3 linked regions of the Homo sapiens genome follow. The protein of the gene in region 1 interacts with the protein of each later gene in a biochemical or structural test. Each region holds a gene or a part of one and is shown in the gene's direction. Other genes may lie near its edges.

Region 1 (8,641 bases):
ATGGCCAGCGAATGCTGGTTTCAAACGTTGGTTACAATTAAATAGTTGCTTTTCTTCTTTTATTTATGTAGCATGTACAATTCACTGGGCATTATTCTACCTGCTTTGCAAATATTAAGTCATTTAGTCCTCCTAACAGCCCTAGGAAGTAGGAATTATTCCTGAGACACAGAGAGGCTAAGTAACTGGTTCAAGGTCACACAGCCAGTGAGTAGTGAAGTCAGAATTCAAACCCAGACACTCTGATAAAAGGCTTTGTTTTGTTTGCTTTTACCAGAAAATATCCTTTTTTTTTTTTTTTTTTTTCAAGACAGGGTCCCACTCTGTCGCCCAGGTTGGAGTGTAATGGTGTGATCATGGCTCACTGAAGCCTCAACCTCCCTAGGCTCTGGTGATCCTCCCACCCCAGCCTCCAGAATAGCTGGGACCACAGGCATGCACCACCACACCCAGCTAATCTTTGTATTTTTTGTAGAGATGGGGTTTCCCCATATTGCCCTGGCTGGTCTCAAACTCCTGGGCTCAAGCGATCAGCCAGCCTCGGCCTCCCAAAGTGCTAGGATTACAGGCATGAGCCACCATGCCCGGCCATTACCAGAAAATATTCGAAGCCACCTAAATCTCACTCTAGAGCTCAGCCAGATGAGAGCTCAGGTAGTTTTGTCAGCATGAGAGTACAAATCTAGGGGATTTAGGGTTAATCCCAAATCCAGCTCCATCCCCAACAAGTCAGCCAGTGTTGGGAAAGGGTCCACTCTGGGGCCTATATTGTGGGCCTCACACTATAACAGTTACAGAGTCCTGGGGGAAAATGTGTGTGAATGGGGAGAGACAGGGTGTGTGAAAGTGTGTGTGTGAGTGGGGAGAGACGATGTGTGTACAAGTGGCCATGAGTCAGGAGAAGACAGACAAGACATTGTCTCTATCCCCAGGGAGGGGCAGGGGCCTGAGCACCTCGGAGTCAGCCACACACCCACTGCATCTCCTCGTAGGGAGATGGAGTGTGGCTGTAAACATGGGTCCCAGTGTCTGTGAGGGGTGCAGAAGGCAAGGCCTCTGGATGGATTCTAACAGGAGAGTGAGCTCCCAGGAGGGAGCTGGCTATTGTTATTCTTATATAAGCCAATTTAGCAGCAATAGGCAAAGTTTGAAAACCAGAATGGAAAATGATTGCAACCTCACTCTTTTAATCTGGCTACTGTATAATTCATTTAAAAAATAACCCCCACAGGTCCCCTTCTCAAGCACCTGTCTGGGCACAGCTGTGGCCATTGGGCAGCCCTCTCCTCAGTGTCACAGCCCAAGTCTGTTTCACGTTACTCCCGAGGCTCTGCAGGAGACTGTCAATGTCTGCATGTTGCCTGTGAGTGAATGGACTTTGCCATCCCTATATCGGTGCATATCTGGGCCATTTCCAAGTTGTTTCTTTGATTAAACGATATAGAGCCAGGTTTTCGAGGGGAGCGTTGGCAAGAGGCATGAGGAACGCGAAACAGTGAGCCCAGGGTGGGCCAGTGGGCTGCTGTGGCGTGCGGGACTGCTGGCCTGGCCACAGACTGGGGGCAAAGACAGGGAGGGGCCAAAAGCCAGGCCAAGCCCCTTGGATTTGAAATGACCAGCCATAGAGAGGAGTGTGTAGATTATGGAAAAGTTGAACACTCACCCAGAGCCAGTGAGGACGAGCTCAAGTGGAAAATCCATTTCTCACCCTCTCTAACATTTGGCTCCTCAAAAGCATCAACCTCCAGGTTCAGCCACACATAAGGAGTTTGGGGGTCAAGGTGCCACCACCCCAAGTGCCCGTGTGGCCTAGAAGGAAGCAGTTAGGTGCCGGGCTGATAATTTCAGCAGCTATTGAAGGGGAAAGACCATCAGCCTGGGAGTCAGTGAACCTGACTCTGATCCCAGCTCTGCCTCCAATCAGCTGTGTGATGACAGGTAGGTCACCTTCCCTCTCTGAGCCACAGTTTATCTGTCTGTAAACAGGGGTATTGGACTGGATTCTCTGTTATCTCTCATGTCTCTGTGAAAGGTCTGTGTTTTCAAATACTCCTTAGGGACATGACCTCACATAGAAAGAGGGGGGTGCCACGAACTGGATTCCCAGCACTCCCCCTTCCCAGCTCTGCTCAAGCTGAGGGACCTTGGAACATGGTACTTGGACCTAAGTACTCTCTCTGGGCTTCAGTGTCCCCAGCTATAAAATGGGGGAAATGCCTAACTCAGGAGGTTGAGGTAAGGACAAAAGGAATTAATACATGGAAAGTGCCTGGAACAGTGCCTGGCACAGTCTGCTTTCAGAAAAAGCTGCAAGGTGGCTACTCTCAGCAGATATAAGTTAATGCAGGAACAGCAACTAGCAGCTCTTGGACATGCAATATATTATATATTTTTTGCATCTTTTACCCTTCACGGCACTGAGCCTCACAATCCGTTGCACAGAGTAGGTGTTTAACAAATGTTTGTCGACTTCATGGATGAGTTTATTGTTGCTTCTTCCATTTGGTATTGTACAATTGGAAAGAACCCGTTTCTGTTCCCACCAGATGCAGATGTCAGGTCGAAACAGAAGGCTGAGAGATGCTTAAACCACCCTAGCAGAAAAGCCATCTCTGATGCAGAAAGGACTAGAACTCCCCCTTAAGCCCACTGTGGTTATTAAAAAAGAGAAAACAACACACAACCAGTGCAGCACCCCAGTGATCTGGAGAATCCCTTGAGGGTAGAGCCTCAGCCAGTGAAACTCCAGCGCTTTTGCCGTGTCTGGAGGAGGGCAGGTCACTAACAGTGATCTGGGCCGTTTCTTCCTCAGTGAAAAGAGGGAGTAGGGTGATCTCTCCCAGCTCTGATTCTACCCTAACTGCTCACGGTATCAACCAAAGAAGGGTGAGCCCATTTTGAACGTAAGGCCAGGTCGAGATTTCAGCTGCAGTTTTAATAGTCAAACAATGAATTTGTTAACTACAAATCATTCTTGTCTACCTAAATTCAGGGAGGTCCCTGTCAGCAGAGTCCCTAGGAATTTTTTTTTTTTTTTTGGAGACAGGGTCTCACTCTGTTGCCCAGGCTGGAGTGCAGTGGTGTGAACACAGCTCACTGCAGCGTCAACCTTGTGGGCTCAAGTGATCCTCCCACCTCAGCCTCCCAAGTAGCTGGGACTATAGGTGTGCATCACCACACCTAGCTAATTTTAAATTTTTTTGTAGAAACGGTCTTGCCGTATTGCCCAGGCTGGTCTCGAATTCTCAAACTCCTGGGCTCAAGCGATCCTCCCACCTCAGCCTCCCAAAGTGTAGGGTTACAGGCGTAAGCCACAGTGCCCAGCCTTCATCCTTTTAAAATGCTTGTCTTTGGACTTGTTGCTCTAGGCCAGCCATCCCTTACCCCACCCAGTGTGGCAGTCAACATCTTCTTGTATGGGTGGGAACAGCAGATGAAGCAAATGTGGGCTTGAATCCTTACTCTGCCCTGAAGCTGTGGGCAAGTCACCTCTTCATCTGTCTAAAGCGGGGGAAATAATACCTGCTTTATGGCATAATCATAATGACCATGAGATGCCAGGTGTGAAATTATGCACAGTTGCACAGTGTCTGGCACACAGTAAGTGCATAATAAATATTAGCTATAGTAGTCACTTAATAAATCTTACCAACTTCCTCAGTCTAAGAAAGGCCATCAAAAGGAGAAGTGGTGAGGGGATGGGGGTAGAGGAAGGGTATTTGGCGTATAGAATCTCTTCCTGCGTCAGAGCACTTTTCACAGTCCCTGGGGAAAAGGGATCAGCTACCAGCCATCAGCTGAGCTTGAAGGTCATAGACAGACCTGAACATCTGGGATATGGAAAAACCTGACAGTAAAAGTAGATATGTAGGGAGGATAATACGAAATGATTCACTCACTGATGCAAACAATCATTTTGAAAATAACTAGCTGGATTCTATTAGACAACAGATTCTTAATCACTTGTTTTCTGAGTATGTGGTATCCGCTTCCACAAAATTGAATGGATGGCAGGAAGGGAGGGAGGCAGACTTCATGAAACAGGCATGTCAGAATCTGGCTTTGGAAGACGGGTTCCCCTTCACGTAGAACTGCGGATTCAAATGCTTTAGCCAAACATGTTCTTTGGCAACTGTCCACCCAGCAGCCATAAAACTGTTTCTGGGACAAATGAAGATGTTTGCGGCTGTTCTTTCTGCCCTATAAGCACAGGCAATTTGTCCATCTCACCCGCCTGGCACTGTTGGGCCCAGAGAGAAGCCTCAGCGAGGTGCTTTGAGATGGGATTTGTGGGGTGTGCATCTGCCCCCCTCCGCATGTCAGCTGGTTTCCAAGCCCCAGCCAGTCTGGTTGGGAGCCAGTGCGCCTAGGTCAGAGCCCAGAAAAACTGGCTAGACTGGTCCAGTCACTTCGTGGCTGCAGAACCAGGGAGGCAGGGCTTGTTCTAGACTGACCGCTATACTTTAGAGTCTACCCACTGGAGTTTTAAGAGGTAGTGGGGGCTATCAGGAAGCACAGTGAGAATCTTAGTTGAACCTTTGAGTGCTGGGATGTCAGGGGCTTTAGGAGAATTGGGACAATATATTGGTCATCATCCCTGGTCAGTACCAAAGCCCACAGAGCTGAAAGGCACCTGCCCAGGGTGAAAGGCTGGGACAAGTGATGGCCGCAGCATTGCCATTTCCAGTGGGGAGTGCCCTCCCTCTGTGATCCATCCACCTCTCCCTCCCTGTTTTCCCAGCCTCTTTGGCAAGGTGTGTGAAGGGCTCATTTCTAGAAAGCCCTTCCTAGCTCAGCAGAGGCCAGAGGTACCAGGCTGGGTGGGGAGCCTGTGCACAGAGACAGGGAAAAGGAGTGTGGCTGGGGGACAAGGGGCTGGGCTGGGTGGGCTGGAAAAGCAAACCGGGTCCAGGCGGGGTTTTACCCTGGGGAAAGGGCTTTAGGAGAGTCCAGGGCCATCTGAGGCACAGTCCTTACAGGTCCAGGCCCCCTGCACTGGGGACCCAACTGCACTCAGAGCACGGGCCTGGCAGGGTGCCCAAGGGCTCGCTCAGGGTGGATGATTTCACTCTTACGGAAGATGCGGAGACAGACAGACAGTGAGAGAAGCAAAAGGGGAGGGAGAAGAAAAAGACCTGCCTGCCTGCCTTGGTCATTCTTGCTTTTAACTTTCTCCCTAGCATCCAAGAGAGCCTATGCCCGGGTTCTGAGGCCAGCGGTGGCATCTCCTGGAAACTTCCTCTCTGTTTCTCACAAGAATTCCTCCACCCATCCCTATCCTGGTGCCTGGGTGCCCGAAGCCGTCCTCAGCTGTTAGGAGAGCCTTCGGCGCAGAGATGCCCCAGATGAGCTCCCGCCATGATCCCTTCCACCACCCCCAGGGCTGCTCCTCCTCCCCAGAAGCAGGGTGCAGAAGGGACAGGATCTGTTGCCTCTGTGGGCCTGTGTGTTTCTCAGTGGGCATTTTTTTCTCTCTCTCTCTTTCTCTCTCTCTCTCTCTCTCACACACACACACACACACACACACACACACACGCTGGTACCCTGGCGAGTGAGCTACTTTGCAGTGTTTGTAACACCCGCACCTGCCACCTCCCTCAGAAGCCACTGTGTGGTCACCACCTCTCCTCTGAGCATAGCCAGACCTGTACGGCAGGTGTGCAATGCCACCTCAAGGCCAGGGTTAGAGGCTGACTTCCAGAGGAGCAGCTGGGCACCTGGGGACCACGGGCTTAGCTGGGTGAGTGACTAGCAGGTTAGACAGCCTCCCCGGCATCCCTCAGCTGCCCGTGCCTGGCTGGGAGCCCGAGAGACTCAGCCACTCCTTCATCTTCCCAGACGGGTAGGGCAAGGCTGGTCCTTGGAGGGAGGCTGGTCCTTGCGTCCTGGGCTTGGTCTTGGTCTAAGCCACGCCCTTCCCCTTCCTCTTTCTGCCAACTCTGCTCCTGTCCCTTGCCTACGCCTCCCAGGTTCTTTTAAGCAGGTACACTGTTTACTGGCCAGGTGCGCCATTTACTGAGCTGCTGTTGCACTAAGGCCCACACAAGTGACCCCATTGAGTCCTCCCATCCCCTTCTAGAGGGGAAAGAACCTGATGCTCCCCTAATCTCTTGCTCCTCACTCCTGGCCCTCTGCCTGAGTCGCACTGTTCTCCTTCCTCCCCTGCCAACCCCTACCCAGCAGAATATACATATATGACACTTCTCTTACAGGAGCTTCTGCCCCCAAGTCTTTCTGTGCCAATCTTCATCTGTCATGTCCACCAAAGTCTTCCTGAACTGGCCCCACCTCCTCCTCCAGGAAGCCCTCCAGTCTAAATCTGTCTCTCACTGGTTGTTCCTTTGTTCTCACCTCATCCCGTCCCCTGGTGTGAGCCTCTAGCTCATCGTGGATCCTGGGCTGTCCCACAACATGGGGTCTTACAGCTCTTTGATGTATCCCCCCACAGGGGGCTCAAAAACACCTACTAACCAGATTCCACATGGACCCCTGGTGACCCACATCTAACCTGAGCCCTTGTTCCCACCGTAGACTATGAGCTCTGCCTAGACCAGAAAGATTCCCTTACAAAACAAAACAAAACAAAAAAATAACAAAACCTCTGTGTGCCCAGAACTTAGTCCAGAACTGTGCACACAGTAGGTGCACAGTAGATGCTGAACTAAATGGAGGGTCTCTCCCTGCTCCCACTCCCCAATGAACGTCTGTCTGAGTGTGGAAGTGCTATGGCGACAGAAGACACAAGTGGCAAGCCAGACAGATAGGTCCCTCTCTGCCTCCGCGTGTGGATTTGTGACTCAACGGCTTATCAAGGGCTACGCGGCAGCGCGGCTTAGTAACATTAAAAGATTCCAGCACTGCCCTGTGTTCCGCCTCCGGTCCCCATAGCACTGGGGGCGTTGTCCACGTGCACGCAAGGGCAGCATGTTGCTTCATGAGCGGTTCTGGACAGGGATGGTGGGAGATGTTGCTAGAGGGAATTGTGGCCCTGGGCTTAGAAACAAAGGGGCAAGAAGGTCTCAGAAGCTGGGGCCTCCAGAGAGCAGGGTCAGGGCACTCTAGCCTCCAAATGGGGACTGGGGAGGCGGCCTAGGTGGCATCCTGGGGTTCCCTCCCTGGTGCTGTCCTGGTTCTGCTGGTCATGAGGCAGGAGTAGCCAGGCAAGGCAGGGGCGCCAAGAGCACTGGCATTCCTGGTACCTTCGTGAGATCCCGTCCGTTGGCATCCCACCCCTCCAGCTCCCTGTGAGTCGGTGTGGGGGTGCAGCCTGGGGCGTCTTTTCTCTCCTGATGGCTGGGGCCTCATGGCCTGACTGTGGAAGCTGCTGCAAGGCTGTGAAATGCAGGGCAGGGGGGCCTAGGAGTGGTGGGGCTCACATGCACCCTGGAGGAAGGACCACTGTCCCTAAAGCTGACAGGGCAGGAGACCTGGGGTTGGAGCTGACTCAGCCACTTCTTGGATGGGTGACCTTAGGCAAATCACATGACCTCTCTGGACCCTTGTGTCCTCTTTACTGGACCGACCACAATGCAGAATGAAAGAGGAAATGCCTGTGCTGCTGCAAGGGGCCTGCTCCCACCAAAGGCCAGTGAGACCTGCTGTTTTCATGGGTGGGAGTCCCACCCCAGGACTCCCCTCAGAACTAAGCCCAACTATCACTCAAGACCCGCCTCCTCCATGAGGCCTTCCCTGGTGAGCCAGGCATCACACTCTGTCCTCCAGCCAAAGCAGGGCTCTCAAACCAGCTGTGGGGAAGGACCACATGGATTTTTCCAATCCATGGCCAACTGGCGTGTGGTCCTGCTGTGTAGCCTGCACCACGTGATTCACCTGGCAAGTCTGACAGCATCTGAATTGGTCTAGACCCTGTTTGACGAGATGAGTCTTGACTGCATGCTCGGATGTCACCGCAGGGATGGATTCACATGAAATGCTTACTCTCCAGTTTTGTACTTCTCAAGTTGTAGACCAGGAACCAATTGTTGGTAGGTTGGCAAACTTGACCAGTCGGACCAGTCCTCACCACCCTTTGAATAGCACGGGCCTAAAGCCCTCCTTTGGGGCCAGAATTCACTGCCTGGCCCAGATCTCTGGTTCACCCTTCACACAGCCTGCCCCTCCTGCCATGCTTCTTGCACTTGTGTGTCTCCATTGCATGGATGTGAGTGATGTAGTGGCTCTTTCTGGCAGCCAAGGCTGGGCGACGGAAGAAGGAAGAACCCTTGTCCAGGAGGAGGAAACTCTTTGGTTTACTCAGACCCCTTACCCAGTGGCGGGTTCTGAGCAGGCCCCTTCCCCCTCCTTGTCACACTCATCAATCTGCACTTGGTGACAAGGTGAGCTGAGGACCCATGATCAGTGGTCGCAGCCCCTAGTGGGGCAAGGGCAGCCTTGCTCTGTGTGGGTTCCCCAAAGCTCACAGGACTTAGCCCCATGCTGTTCTACCCCTTGTCCCCGCACTCATCCAAGGTAAAGGAATCCCACTTCTCCAGGGCCCAGGGCCCAGGACCCGGCTCTGCCTCCTGCCTCTGAGGTGCCGGCCCTGGAGAGGCTCTGGTGGAGCCTCAGCTGGGTGAGCTCAGCTCGCTGACTCTGGGAAGAGGCTGCTGTTCAAGCTCTTTCTGGGCTGCCTCATTCCTCA
Region 2 (7,761 bases), about 39 Mb from region 1:
TCCCCCAACCCTGCGCTCGGCCTAAGCCAGGCTCTCTCTGCAGTGCACTATGCTCGCCCCATCATCATCCTTGGGCCCACCAAGGACCGCGCCAACGATGATCTTCTCTCCGAGTTCCCCGACAAGTTTGGATCCTGTGTTCCCCGTGAGTGCTGGGGCCTTGGATGGAGGAGAAGGTGGAAGTGGGGGTGGGGCAGGGGAGGCCCATCCCTGGGGCCATAGGCAGAGCCTCCTGGGGGATCGGTGTGTAGGGAGATACAGGGTTTCTCCGAGAAGGGGTGCTTCTCAGCCACCCTCTCATTCCATAGTACCCATGCCCAGGCCAGAGACTTGGAGGCCCTGGAGGGTGCTAGGGGAAGCGGTTCTGGCCCTCTGCAGTCTTGGTCTCCCTGGCAGCTCCCTTTCACCAAAGGACCAGCTGGGCACTATGGGGATTTGATTGAAGTAGGCAGGATTTAAGCTAGAGGGATGGTGGTTAGATCTTTGGGGGGTGGGGTGACTTCCTGGCAGATACGACACGGCCCAAGCGGGAGTATGAGATAGATGGCCGGGATTACCACTTTGTGTCGTCCCGGGAGAAAATGGAGAAGGACATTCAGGCGCACAAGTTCATTGAGGCCGGCCAGTACAACAGCCACCTCTATGGGACCAGCGTCCAGTCCGTGCGAGAGGTGGCAGAGCAGGTAGGACCTGGCGGGCACCCGGTCCTCTTCCTTCTCCCCTCTCCCCACCCCACTGCCTCCCTCCAGCTTTCTCTAACTCTCTCTCTCTCTGTCTCTTTCCCTGCTGGGTCTCCACTCCGCTCCTCCACCTCCTTCTCCTCTTGGGCAACTCTGTCTGACTGCCTGCTCTCTGCCCCTGCTCTCTCTCCCACCTCCCTCACTTCCTGACCCCAAATTCCCCACCACCATCTGGCCTCTTTCTCTCCCCACTCCCTTCTCCTTGCCCCATTTCTCCTCTCTTCCCATGGCCTTGTCTTTGGTGGCTTGGCCTTCCCCACTGGGTCCCTCCCTTTTTCCTGACTCCCCGCTGGCCCTCTCCCCTGCCTCACCCTTTTCTGGGGCCCGGCTCCCCTCTCCCACTCCTCTGCTAACTCCTTTCCTTTCCCCGCTGCTCCTCACCCTGCCCTCCCTCCCTCCCTCCACGGTTCCTTTCTCCATCTGCCTCACTCCCTCCCATCTGTCTCCTTGTTCCTTCCATCTGTCTGTCCTCTGTCCGTCCTCCCCTCCCTCCTCCCTCTATCCTACTTCCTTTCTCCTTTTTCTTGGCTTTCCTTCCCGCCTGTGTCACCTCTGCCTTGCACACCCCGCCCCACTCGCTGCTGCCCCGGCTCTGCCACCATCTCTTGGGTCCCTGCCTGCCTGGTGCTCCTCCCTTCCTCCATTCTGTCCTGTCCCTGCCCTCTCCCGTGCTCTCCATCTTCCCTTTCCTTTCCCTCTGTCTTTTACTCTGTCCATACCCGCTTCCTGCCTGACTCTCTGCCCCCGTGTTTCTTGACATCCATGTCACTCCCCTTCGGCCAACTTCCCATTCCCCACCTCTCCCCGTCCGTGTCCCTCCGGCACTGCTCTCTGTCCTTTCTCGCCACCCGCTGGCCCCCCTCCGCCCACCCTGCCTGCCCCCAGGGGAAGCACTGCATCCTCGATGTCTCGGCCAATGCCGTGCGGCGGCTGCAGGCGGCCCACCTGCACCCCATCGCCATCTTCATCCGCCCCCGCTCCCTGGAGAATGTGCTGTGAGTATGGTCCTGGGGGCCTCCCCTTTGCTCCCCCAACACCTGTGGCCCTGGGCCTCACAAGGCGTCTGCGTTCAACTCTCCCTTCAGAACCCTGGACAGCGGTTTCAGCAGCCCCTGAGGGGGATCCCTGGAACCCAGAGGATGTGGGGGAATCGGGTCTTTCCCCTCCTCTCCTGCCTTGGCTAGACAGGACTACATTTCCCAGCAGCCCCTGGGGCATACCAGCTGGGGCGAGTCAGGGCCTCTAGGGCTGTTGGGAATTGGAGTCCGAATCCCATCTCTGGGGCTGAAGGCTGGAAGGATGAAGCTCCGTAGATGTCCCTGGAGTAGCCACACCTGGCTGGGGCGGTTGCGGGTGGCAGGGGGGTGGGGGGTGGTTCTCATCTGTGGCCCCAGAGGATATTGGGAATTGTATTTTTTTTTTTGCTATGTGCTCCAAATAGAAGAATACTTAACATTCCTGGATAGAGGAGATAAAAGGCAGGGTCAGGTGGGTCCAGTCTCAGGCCTGCTCTCCCTCCCTCTTCACAGAGAGATTAACAAGCGGATCACAGAGGAGCAAGCCCGCAAAGCCTTCGACAGAGCCACCAAGCTGGAGCAGGAGTTCACAGAGTGCTTCTCAGGTGAGGCCACAGCAAGGCTGTTGCCAGCATGTAGGGTGCCCTTGCTCGGATTAGAAAGAGCTCCCCCGCCACCCCCAGTGGATGGCTTAGAAAGAGGTGCCCCTGTGGGCGCGGCATGGTGGCTCACGCCTGTAATCCCAGCACTGGCGGGCACCTGTAATCCCAGCTACTCGGTAGGCCGAGGCAGGAGAATCGCTTGAACCTGGGAGGCAGAGGTTGCAGTGAGCCGAGATCGCACCACTGCACTCCAGCCTGGCGCTAAGAGCAAAACTCAATCTCAAAAAAAAAAAAAAAAAAAAAAAAGAGGTGCCCCTGTGGGCGGGTGCAGCCCCAGGACTTATGGCTTGGAGAGTTGGAAAGAGGTGCCCCTTCCTCTGGGCTGGTGCAACCCCCTTGGCCAGGTGTCCTCTGGCCCTTCCTTGGCCTCACTCCCTGCTCCACCCCACTCCCAGCCATCGTGGAGGGTGACAGCTTTGAGGAGATCTACCACAAGGTGAAGCGTGTCATCGAGGACCTCTCAGGCCCCTACATCTGGGTTCCAGCCCGAGAGAGACTCTGATTCCTGCCCTGGCTTGGCCTGGACTCGCCCTGCCTCCATCACCTGGGCCCTTGGTCTGGACTGAATTGCCCAAGCCCTTGGCTCCCCCCGGCCTCCCTCCCACCCCTTCTTATTTATTTCCTTTCTAACTGGATCCAGCCTGTTGGAGGGGGGACACTCCTCTGCATGTATCCCCGCACCCCAGAACTGGGCTCCTGAACGCCAGGAACCTGGGGTCTGGGGGGGAGCTGGGCTCCTTGTTCCGAGCCCTTGCTCCTTAGGATCCCCGCCCCCACCTGCCCCCAATGCACACACAGACCCACCGGGGGCCACCTGCCCTCCCCCATCCTCTCCCACACACATTCCAGAAGTCAGGGCCCCCTCGAGGAGCACCCGCTGCAGGGATGCAGGGCCACAGGCCTCCGCTCTCTCCTAAGGCAGGGTCTGGGGTCACCCCTGCCCTCATCGTAATTCCCCATGTTCCTTGATTTCTCATTTATTTTTTCCACTTTTTTTCTTCTCAAAGGTGGTTTTTTGGGGGGAGAAGCAGGGGACTCCGCAGCGGGCCCCTGCCTTCCACATGCCCCCACCATTTTTCTTTGCCGGTTTGCATGAGTGGAAGGTCTAAATGTGGCTTTTTTTTTTTTTTTTCCTGGGAATTTTTTTGGGGAAAAGGGAGGGATGGGTCTAGGGAGTGGGAAATGCGGGAGGGAGGGTGGGGGGCAGGGGTCGGGGGTCGGGTGTCCGGGAGCCAGGGAAGACTGGAAATGCTGCCGCCTTCTGCAATTTATTTATTTTTTTCTTTTGAGAGAGTGAAAGGAAGAGACAGATACTTGAAACTTGGTGTGTGGCCTGGTTATTTGGGACCTGGGTGTGGAGGGAGATGGGCGCAGCAGAGTCAGATCCTTCTTCACTCCAAGCCAGAGAGGTTAGTGGCCTGGAAAATGGGCCAGGGAGGTAACTGGCAAATCAAGGAACCCGAGTTGGTGAAGACTGAGCCTGGGAAGGTCTGGAGCTCTGTCCAAAGTCATGACAGGCCAGAAAGGGGAGGCTGGAACTTGTCTGGGGCCCTGCAGACTTAGTCCAGCTCTGATCCCTGCCGGGCTGTCTCAGTCCTGTTGGGAAGCACAACAGTCCTTAAAGGAAAATAGAGAGGAAACTTCGTTCATTCATGTTCATGGAGTTGTGGACAGAGCTAGGATCTGGAAATGATTTTTTTTGTTTTTTTGTTTTTTTTTTTGAGACAGAGTCTTGCTCTGTCGCACAGGCTGGAGTGCAGTGGCTCGATCTCGGCTCACTGTGATCTCTGCCACCCTGGTTCAAGTGATTCTCCTGCCTCAGCCCCCTGAGTAGCTGGGATTACAGATTACTGCCACCATGCCTGGCTAATTTTGTATTTTTAGTAGAGATGGGGTTTCACCATGTTGGTCAGGCTGGTCTTGAACTCCTGACCTTGTTATCCACCCGCCTCAGCCTCCCAAAGTGCTGGGATTACAGGCGTGAGCCACCGCGCCTGGCCTGGAAATGATCTTTACAGAGTTCTGCTGATAAGAACTGCTGTGTGAATATACGCTAGGTTTCTTTATGCGCCCCCCCCACCCTTTTTTTTTTTTTTTTGAGACAGAGTTTCGCTCTTTCGCTCAGGCTGGAGTGCTGTGGTGCGATCTTGGCTCACTGCAACCTCTGCCTGCTGGGTTCACACGGTTCTCCTGCCTCAGCCTCTCGAATAGCTGGGATTACAGGCGCCTGCCACCACTCCTGGCTAATTTTTGTATTTTTAGTAGAGATGGGGTTTTGCTTTGTTGGCCAGGCTGGTCTCGAACTCCTGACCTCAGGTGATCCGCCCAGCTTGGCCTCCCACAGTGTTAAGATTACAGGCATGAGCCACTACGCCCAGCCTTTATGTCCTATCTCTATGGGAAAGATCTGAGGCAGCTTTGTAAATAATGAGGGTAGGAAAATAAGAATCTAAATGCCAAAGATGAAAACTGGAGAAATGTATATGAACTGTGAGGGTAAATGTGATCTCTGAGCTTCCTGATAGCCATGGCAAAAAAGGAAATTGTCAATTACCTACTTCTTTATTATAAGGGAGAAATAATTTTAGTTCTTTTAGGGAGTCATATTTTCCTGGCCCTAAGTCCTAACTGAAGCTCCTGAGATCCTGCTATGTAGAATGGTGACTCTCAGCCTTCTGCCTTCTTCATGTGTTTGGCACAGATGAACCTTTGGGGGCACCTGCTGGGGTACTATTCCTTTCTCTGATTCTCAGGTGCTCCAGTGGGTAAGGCTGAGGCAGAGGGCCCTAAGAGTTATGGTGGTTAAATCCCAAACAGTGCAAAAGGGCATTTTTTGTAGCCACTCCTGACTAAAGTTGAGAGTTTCATGCAAAAGACCAACCCAGGGGTAGTGATTCTGTGGATGGCATGGCCGTCCAAGCCTAAAGTAGTCCAAGAATAGAGGCAGAGATTGCTGAAGGGGTGTCACTTCAACCAGTAGCCACGTATTGCCCTGCAGGATTTTCTATGCAGGACCGAGTCCATCAGGATCCTGGGGATAGGGACCAGGGGTCTGCATTTCTGGAAAGCTCCCGGGTGATTTTGATGTCTCACTGGGTGGAGAAGCACTGCTTCAGAGGATTTTTTTTTTTTTTTTTTTGAGGTCGAGTTTCACTTTTGTTGCCCAAGCTGGAGTGCAATGGCGCGATCTCGGCTCACTGCAACCTCCAACTCCAGGGTTCAAGTGATTCTCCTGCCTCAGCTTCCCAAGTAGCTGGGATTACAGATGCGTGCCATAACACACAGCTATTTTTTAATATTTTTAGTAGAAACGGGGTTTCACCATGTTAGCCAAGCTGGTCTCAAACTCTTGACCTCAGGTGATCTGCCCGCCTTGGCCTCCCAAAGTGCTGGGATTACAGGCGTGAGCCACTGCACCTGGCCCTGATGTTTTTCAAATAATCCTTCTCTTAGCTTGGTTCTGTGTAATAGCAGATGGCTTGAGGCTGTGATAACGTTCTCTATCGTGAGCTGAAGGGAGAAATCTAGGAGCTGAGGAAGGTGTGTGCAGGTAATGCGTCTGCGTGTTAAACTAGAAGGGGCAGAATCACATATTTGACCTGGATGGGGTAGAATCACATAATTTTGCATGTATTATTATTATTATTATTATTATTATTATTGGAGACAGAGTTTCGCTCTTGTTGCCCAGGCTGGAGTGCAGTGGTGCGATCTCTGCTCACTGCAACCTCTGCCTTCCGGATTCAAGCTATTCTCCTGCCTCAGCCTCCCGAGTAGCTGGGATTACAGGTGCATGCCACCACGCCCAGCTAATTTTTTGTATTTAGTAGAGATGGGGATTTCACCATATTGATCAGGCTGGTCTCGAACTCCTGACCTCGGGTGATCCACCCCCCCCCCCCTCGGCCTCCCAAAGTGCTAGGATTACAGGCATGAGCCACCGCGCCTGGCCTGCATGCATTATTTTGTAAATTATAATCAGTACACGTACCTGACAACAATTCAAATAAATATAGAAATACATACTGTTTTTAAAAAGTTTCCTTCCTGTTTCCCTCCAGGCATTATTCCTCAGGGGAAGCACGGTTGCCGCTGGGGCTGTATTCTTCCAAGGCCATGGCCTGGCCGCTTGAGAAGGCAATGTAATTAATGCATTGGAGCCCTGGGCTCCCAAACAACATAGGTTCAAATCCTGGTTCCTCTTCTCCCCACACTTTTTACTTCTTTCAGTAAATACTTCCTTGGATGTTCCTTGGAACCAGGCAGTGTTCTAGATGCTGGGAAGGCAACATCCCTGTCCTTAGGGAACTTTGGGTGCATCCAGTGGAGATGACAGACTATAGGGAGTAAGTGAACACAGAGTGTTTAGACAATGATGGGTGCTACTATGAAAGAGAGTGATGGCCCTTGCTGGTTTAGACCGGGCGGTCAGGGAGGCCCCTTGCAGCATCATTTGGGTGGAGGCCTGAAGGACAACAAAGACTGGGGTGGTGAGAGTGTGCCAAGTAGGGAGACGAACAGTCTGGAAGGAATAAATTTGAAAGGTTGGAGGACAGAAGGAGGCCACTGGAGTGGAGTAGGGTGGGGGACAGAGAGAAATAGGTGTGTCAGAGAAGTCAGAGAGGCGTGGCACACAGGACTTCCCGTGGATTTTTCAGAGTGGTGTAGAAGCTGCTGGAGGGCTGTGGAGGGAACCGTGAGCCAGTTACTCTGGGTGTGAAGGGGAATACACAGCAGGGGGCAATGGAGAGCCAGCTAGGCTGTTGCTGGCGTTAGGATGAGGGACGATGGTGGAGTCACTGTCACTCTGGGGAGAGCTTAACCTCTCTAAGCCTCAGTATACCTAGCTGTAAAATGGAAATAACTACCTACCTTGGTGGATACTTGGGAGGAATAAACTGGAAAGTACACGTAAAGCCCTCAGCACAGTGCCTGACGCATGGTAGAAAATGGTAGCAATTATTGTCATTGGCCTCTTGGTCTATTTTCAGATATGCATAAGCCCAAAAGTTAAAGCCTGGAATCATTTGGAGTTTTAACAAGTTTTACCCTCAAAAAGTAGGAAAGAGGCAGGCCTGGCATGGTGGCTCACGCCTGTAATCCCAGCACTTTGGGAGGCTGAGGTGGGCAGATCACGAGGTCAGGAGTTCAAGACCAGCCTGGCCAACATGGTGAAACCCTGTCTCTACTAAAAAAACAAACAAACAAAAAAAGCTGGGGGTGGTGGCGGGCGCCTGTAATCCCAGCTACTGGGGAGGCTGAGGCAGGAGAATCCCTTGAACCCGGGAGGCGGAGTTTACAGTCAGCTGAGATTGCGCCACTGCACTCCAGCTTGGGCGACAG
Region 3 (7,820 bases), on another chromosome or scaffold:
TGTATAATCTCCTATGTATAAAACAAGGTGACTTGTCTGGCTCTTTTGTCCAGGTACCTCAAAAAGTTTGCAAACCACCGAACTAGAAAGTTTGTCTCTTCCAATTCTAAGAATGAAGTTTTTTTTTTTTGTTTTAGTTATCAACTATATAACATTTTAACATAAGAAGACATATACTTAATTATATTACATTTATTTCTTCAGTAACTTCCAGTCAGATATGGCCTTACATCTATCTGTTGATAGAATAATTGTTGGTGTGATTTGAAGACTACTTTCAAGTCAGTGTGTCCTGTCAGGTACATTATTGATAAATGGATGCTCTCTACGGTTTTAGAATGAAAGATTTTTGTAAAGACCACTTGATGCACCTGAACAATTTTGAAAAATGTAACATTTTAATAGACTTTTAAAAACATAAGGATACATAGCACAGTGTAATGAACTGCCTTTTAACTGTTACCCAGCTCCAGAAATTCACATTTTGCCATTTTTGTTTACATTGATGGACATTTTTTACACATTTGAATTTCTGAGGTTTAAGGTCCGAATGGATGATCAAATTGGATTCCTCTGGAAAAACAGCAAAAAGCATTTTTTAGTTATTTGTTTTCTAAATCAACATTGAGCCTAGTAATTTGGTGCAGTTACTGTTGCAAAAAAAGTATGTTTTTTCGCAACAGTATAGAGATATATATATACATATATGTATAGATAGGCAGATAGATAGACTGCAGACTTTTCTTTGTGTGATGGCTGTAACTTAAGAAAATTAAATCGTTAGTGAAATAACAGAATCTACATTTATATTTCTGTCTAGATTGGGGATGGGTTTGCTGTGTTCAGAGACATTTTTGACCTATTCTGCCTTGCCTGTTTTGAATGTGTCTATTCTTACGTACAATTGAACTTTGATAGAGTTAGCTTTCTTCTCTTTTTTTTTTTTTTTTTTTTTGAGGCAGAGTCTCACTCTGTCACCCAGGCTGGAGTGCAGTGGCGAGATCTCCGCTCACTGCAAGCTCCGCCTGCCAGGTTCACGCCATTCTCCTGCCTCAGCCTCCTGAGTAGCTGGGACCAAAGGTGCCCACCACCACGTCCGGCTAATTTTTTATTTTTTGTATTGTATTTTTAGTAAAGACGGGGTTTCACTGTGTAAGCCAGGATGGTCTCGATCTCCTGACCTCGTGATCCACCCACCTCGGCCTCCCAAAATGTTGGGATTACAGGCGTGAGCCACCGCGTCTGGCCTAGAGTTAGCTTCCTAATTACTAAGTTTATATTTGTGAATCTTCTAATTTCATTGGTTGTGAATTTACTTTGACATTTAAATTTACTTATATTTAATGTTCTATAGGATGTGGTACTATATCACATTTTGGTGTAAGACAAGTAATAGATTTTAGGAGTTTTGAAATAGATAACGTTTAATAGAGGTTCTGTGTGTTTCCATGCTATAATTGTTGATACTACGGAATAAATACATTCTCTTGTGTTTCCTGAATAACTTTTAATACTTAGTCTGAAAATGTTTAGTCTGATAAGATTTTCTTTGTATTTTGCAACTCTACCATTGTTTTGAAACAGTGTCATAAATGTACTTTAAGCTTGTAAACTGCCCTAAGCTAAACCAGTTCATTGTGTCCATAGTGTTTGCAGAAAAATCCGACTCAGAAGACAGAGTGCCACTTACTGAAAGGTTTTTTCTCTCAGTAAGTGGCACTCTGTCTTCTGAGTTGGTACCTGTGGACCACTGGATTAAAGGAGAACAGGGGTCTTGGCCACCTGAGCTGTTTGGAGTCATTGAGTGCTTAGATTTTTCACTTCCTTAATTTGGAAATCACTTGTTTAGGCCGCAGTGAGTTATCTAGTTATCTGTTTGGGGTGCCAAGTGTCTTTGGATTTTCAGTCTGCATTGATCATTTATTGATTGATTCTTTGAACTGGTAGTTTATATTGACTTTTCATGCATTTAAAAAAGTTTGAGTCTCTAGGGGTTTGGTGTCCCCCCCTGTAGTTGATACATAGATTAGGTTCCTGTACTTTTGGATTATTCAGAGGGACAAGCATGTACGTACTGTATTATATTTGTTCTAAAATACCAACTGTTAAATATTTCAATATCTGGTATATGTCATTTTTAATTGACAGTGTTTCTGTGTTCTGACACATGAAATAGTGCATTTTATAATTGATACTCGCAATGTAATATAGAAATCATTGGTCTAGTGCTGATAGATACTTGGTAGTATCTTTGAAGGATGGCTTAAAGATTTAAAAATTATTGAAAGCAGAAAAGTTTTTACTAATTTTGAATTTCAGCTGATGTATTGTTTCTTTAGAGCTAAATATTTAAAGTTGTATCTTAACAAAAGTCCATGAACTGCACATTTGTTTAAAATTTACTCCCAAAACATACCTGGTGATTATTTTTGTATAAAGGAAGATAAAGTCTGCTTAATTTCACTCTGTGATTTAGGTGAGAGCAATTTGAAAACTTGCTTTTGTATTCCAGTTTTTTGTGCTTAAGTTTGAAAATTTTTTGAGTAGACGGGATATGGTTTGATTATAATCAGAGCCCAGGTATTCAGGTCCATAGTGGTTTCAGTTCATTCATGATTCTAAGGTGTGTGGGATCTGAGATGACACTGCTAGTCCATAGAGACTTCATACCAGTCTAAACCCCTGCAGTTATTTCTTACGGGATCAGAGAACTCATCTGCTTTCCTTGTGCATGAGAAAAACTGGGGCCCAAGATTAGGCTGGCTTTAGAGACTTGAGTAAGTTGAGTCATGTGATTTGTATATTTTGTCTGCAATAAATAAGCTTATTCTAATGCAGTGTTTTATTTCTGCAGAGATTTCAGAATGAAAGTGGATTATGTAATAATACTGTCCATTTATGAGTTTAGTTACCAGTTCATTTGTTGCCACTCTATTAAAATCTAATAGTTTCACTAGCCCTTATAAAAGGACATTACCCTATCTTTATTTGTAGATACTAGTTTCAAAAGTATGACCCCTTTGCCATCTTCACCATCTTTAAATGTACAGTTCAGGAGTGTGAAATGTATTCATATTGTTGTGAAACAAATCTTCAGAACACTTTCGTCTTGCAAAACTGAAATCCTATACCGAATAAACAACTGCTCCCCTTTCCTCTCACTTCCCAGCCCCTTGTGACCAACGTGCTGCTTTCTGTTTCAGTGAATTTGATCATGTTAGAAACCTCATAGAAGTATTTGTCTTTTTGCGACTGGCTTATTTCACTCAGTGTAGAGTCCGCAAGGTTCATTCATGTTGTAGTTGTTGACAGGATTTTCTTCCTTTTTCAGGCTGAATAATATTCCGTTGTATGTATATACCGCATTTTATCTAGCCATCCATTGATGGACAGTTGGGTTGCTTCCTCCTCCTGGCTGTTGTGAATAATGCTGTTAGGAATGTGAGTGTGCAAATATTTCTTCAAGACCCTGCTTTCAGTTCTTTTGGATATTTACCCAGAAATAGGATTGTGGGATCATACGGCAGTTACATTTTTAATTTTTTGAGGGCCCACCATAATGTTTTCCATAGTGATTGCAGCATTTTACAGTCTCACCAGCAGCACACAGGATTTCCAGTTTCTCCACATCCTTGCCGATACTTAATTTTTTTCCTTTCTTTTTTTGATAATAGCCATCCTAATAAGTGTGAGTATATGACTCCTCTTCAAGTGTATGTAAAACATAATAACCAACATTTATTGAGCACTTTCTATGTGCTAATACAAATATATCATTTAGTCATTGTAATCCTGTGAGGTGTACATTCACCTGTATGAGGTGTTTGTACTGTTTTATAGACTGGAAAACTGAAGCACTGAGAAATGACCAATCTTGCCCTTGGACCCTCAGATGCTAAATTGCGGAGCCAGAAATTGAACTCAACTAATCTGAATCCATAGATACTTCTCACCGTCAACCATTGGGATATTCTTTATCGTTGTTTTTCAGAACTGAGTATTTTAATCTGATAAAGAATACTAAATGACAAGCATGCTTAAGACAGATAGCAATCTTTAGGGTTAGTAATCTTTAAATGATTGTCACTTTGAAGGAAAATATTTATAATGGTGCATTATGTTTATGATGATGGAAATCACACATTTTGAAAACAGTGTTTAGTAATCAGGGTTTGAGATCTTCCAGCTATAGTGGTAAAATGTCAAAATTTCTTAAATTTCTTTTGCATTATATTAGTCCCACTGATGTTACATTTTAGTCTCTTGCTAACTGTGTGTGTGTGTGTGTGTGTGTGTGTGTGTGTGTGTGTGTAACTTTGTAGGCTAGATTTGAGTAAGGAAAACAGGATATGGATCACATCGTTGGCTGAAACTTCCTGAAATGGAGAATTTTAGTAACTTCTCACTTGATGGTTTTGATTCAATTAGATTGAGTTCTTTGCTCATAGTTTGCTTACTACTGCTCTGAAGCAGTGTTTTGATTATGTTGAATCTGGCTGAATTCTCTTTAGAACCTTGGAATCAGAGTTGTAAAGGCATCTAAATATTTCTTCTAAGCCATTTCCTCTCTGCAGGGTCATATTTTTCCTCAGTGCAGAATCCAGACTTGGACCAGATATTACCGTTAGTTGTCACGTCTCTTTACTTAGGGCACATTTCCACAGCTTTTCTTTGTCTTGTGTGAGACTGACTTTTTTTTTTTTTTTTTTTTTTTTACTATTTGGAGACAGGGTCTTGCTCTGCCACCCAGGCTGGAGTGCAGTGGTGGCTTACTGCAACCTCTGCTTCCCAGGCTCAAGCAATCCTCCTGCCTCAGGCTCCTGAGTAGCTGGGACTACAGGTGTGAGCCCCCACGCCTGGCTAACTTTTTCTAGAGACAGGTGTTGCCCAGGCTGGTCTCGAACTCCTGAGCAAAGTTCTGGGATTACAGGTGTGAGCCACTGCGCCCAGCTGAGATTGATGATTTTGAAAAACGCAGTTCCTTCCACTCTTACTTTTTTTTAATATAATTTTCTCATTTTGGGTTTGTCTGATGTTTCCTTGTGATTAGATTCAGGTTTTGTATTCCTGGCTTAGGATTCTGTACATCCAGAGGTACACAGAGTCATCTGCTCTTTGTTGATGATACTGATTTTGATTACCTAGTTGGGTGTTGTCTGAATTCTGTATCCTATAGTCATTGTTTTTTACCCCTTGTGGCTTATAGGCAATATGTGGGGGAGACACTTTAACACCATGTACATATCCTACTCCTTAGCAAAATTTCCACCCATATTTAGCATCCATTGATGATTCTTGAACCGGTTTATAATATGGTTGTTGAAAAGTAAGATTTCTAACAGTAACACTCCTAGGTTTACCAGTTAACACTTTGCATTTTATTCTAAACAAGAGCCTTCCTTCTTTTTTTCCCGTGTCTTTCATGAACTTGCAGATACCTGTTTTTTTTTCAATGACTTATCATTTATTACCATCCTTAATGACATTTGTGCTCTGAGTGATCCAGTGGGGGCCCTTTCAAGCTTGTGTCCTTATGAGATGCCCTCATCATTTTTTGGAGCACTTTCTTAATTTTTGGCATAACAAGATGTTCCAGGTTTATCTTGTACCTCTCCTGCCCCAGCCCTGGAATCAGCCATTTCTCTGAGAAGCTCTGGTTCCTTTTAGTACACACCTTGTTTTATGGAATATGCTTGTGAGTCATGTATGATTCTTAGTCTAATAGTATCTAAAGTATTCAAGTGATTTATTTTTGCCTACTAGCTTGACATCTTTCCTTTCTTTAGTGTGTGAAACAATAGTACAAACTTTTAAATTTTATAGGATATTCTTTCTTCTAGGGGTCAAAAATGACTTTTTAAATGAACATTGGTTTAGAAGAAAGAGTATTTGTGCTTGAGTAGATTTGACTATTGTGGTATTATCTTAGTATGTCATCTGCCCTTCACTGATGATGTTAATTTTGATTACTCAATTGGGTATTGTCTGAATAATCATACTTGCTTTTAGTAAATGAACTGATAGAATTTTTTTCCTCTGAAATGGTAGGGTTATATTTCAGTGTTCTTCAGCTTTCTAGTTGCCTTTCCTGTAACCCTCCAAAATAAATTTATTATAAAAATGATGCATGTTCTATATAAAACATTTGAGATCAGATTATTATATGTAAAATACCATAAGAAAATATTCACACCAGAGGTTACCTCCTACTTCATCCATGGGATGAATATCCTGGAATGTTATTTGTGTGTGTGTGTGTGTGTGTGTGTGTATGCGCGTGTATACACGCCACCCCCCACCTTCATTTTGCAAAACAAACTTCTAAGTAAAACAGTTATTTCCCTTGTGAGAATTGATACTTAAAATCAGCATGTAAGGTGAAAAACCTCATCTAGTTAAAATTATCCCTGAAAAGCCTTCAGAAATTTAACACTAGCTCTTGTTAATTACAGCACAATTGTTTTTTTTCCTCTAGTGGAAAGGAATGATTTCTTCACTTGAGCCCTAGACGAAGCAACTGGCTTGTTTGACTTCTTGTACTAAAAACACGTAATTATAGAATCACACTCAGCACAGTGAGATATAGCAAGAAGCTCACATTTTGAGAGGCACATGAAAACTCAGACTACCTAAAGGAAGAATCTTCTTCCTTCTCATTTTTTTATTTGTGACAGTCACTTATTGGGTAGACAGAGTTGCCCTTTTTTGCAGGGGAGATATACTGCAGTTGTATTTGTATAAGTGTGAATAGTATGATTTCTCTGTACTATACATATTGTTTTTATCTTCTAAAGTTTATCGACAAATGTCTTTCCATGTCAGTAGATTTCTACCATTTTATGTATGTATGTATGTATGTATGTATGTATTTTTTTTTTTTTTTTTTTTTTTTTGAGACAGTTTCACTCTTGTTGCCCAGGCTGGAGTGCAATGGCTTGATCTCAGCTCACCACAACCTCCGCCTCCTAGGTTCAAGCGATTCTCCTGCCTCAGCCTCCTGAATAGCTGGGATTACAGGCATGTGCCACCACGCCTGGCTAATTTTGTATTTTTAATACAGACAGGGTTTCTTCATGTTGGTCAGGTTGGTCTCGAACTCCTGACCTCAGGTGATCCGCCCGCCTCAGCCTCTCGAAGTGCTGGGATTACATGCATGAACCACTGTGCCTGGCCAGATTCGTACCATTTTAAGTGACTGTGTATATAGATTTTTTTTTTCCTTTTCTTTTCTTTTTTTTTTTTTTTTTTTTGAGACGGAGTCTTGATCTGTCACCAGGCTGGAGTGTAGTGGTGCAATCTCGGCTCACTGCTACCTCTGCCTCCTGGGTTCAAGTGATTCTCCTGCCTCAGCCTCCTGAGTAGCTGGGATTACAGGCGTGCGCCACCACGCCTAGCTAGTTTTTGCATTTTTAGTAGAGACAGGGTTTCACCATGTTGGCCAGGATGGTCTCGATCTCTTGACCTCCTGATCTGCCTGCTTCAGGCTCCCAAAGTGCTGGGATTACAGGTGTGAGCCACTGCACCCGGCCTATATAGATTTTCTGTAGTTTTTTTAATGGTTTCCTAGGAGCATTTAGGTTTGTAATTTTTGTGAATTATAAATATTGTATTTGCATATGCATTTTTGTTTCAATTCTTTACTATATTCTTAGGACAAACTCCTAGAAATGAATTGTTTGGTCAAAGGGAGTGTGCATTTTAAGGCTATTGAGGTAATTTGTTAAATACTCTTAGGAATGTTGTATTTATTTTTTAGGAAGTATGTGGAAGAATGACCAATTCACCATACCTTAAGCAATACAGAGTGTTATCCATCTTTT

What was found. Proteins that work in one complex are often made in the same cells at the same time.
Region 2: the proteins of CRHR1 (region 1) and DLG4 form a complex in vitro, tested with the Homo sapiens proteins (2 studies listed by BioGRID and IntAct, with this or other methods).
Region 3: the proteins of CRHR1 (region 1) and DLG1 form a complex in vitro, tested with the Homo sapiens proteins (3 studies listed by BioGRID and IntAct, with this or other methods).

The regions. Positions count from the first base shown.
Region 1 is NC_000017.11:45,786,351-45,794,991, forward strand, and holds part of CRHR1 (corticotropin-releasing factor receptor 1 isoform 2 precursor), read left to right. Parts: intron 1-8,641.
Region 2 is NC_000017.11:7,185,867-7,193,627, reverse strand, and holds the end of DLG4 (disks large homolog 4), read left to right. Parts: intron 1-43; coding exon 44-145; intron 146-510; coding exon 511-683; intron 684-1,625; coding exon 1,626-1,735; intron 1,736-2,269; coding exon 2,270-2,361; intron 2,362-2,813; coding exon 2,814-2,920; 3' UTR 2,921-6,441; downstream 6,442-7,761. UniProt on the Homo sapiens protein: Postsynaptic scaffolding protein that plays a critical role in synaptogenesis and synaptic plasticity by providing a platform for the postsynaptic clustering of crucial synaptic proteins.
Region 3 is NC_000003.12:197,287,793-197,295,612, reverse strand, and holds part of DLG1 (disks large homolog 1), read left to right. Parts: intron 1-1,664; exon of another isoform or gene 1,665-1,735; intron 1,736-7,820. UniProt on the Homo sapiens protein: Essential multidomain scaffolding protein required for normal development. Recruits channels, receptors and signaling molecules to discrete plasma membrane domains in polarized cells.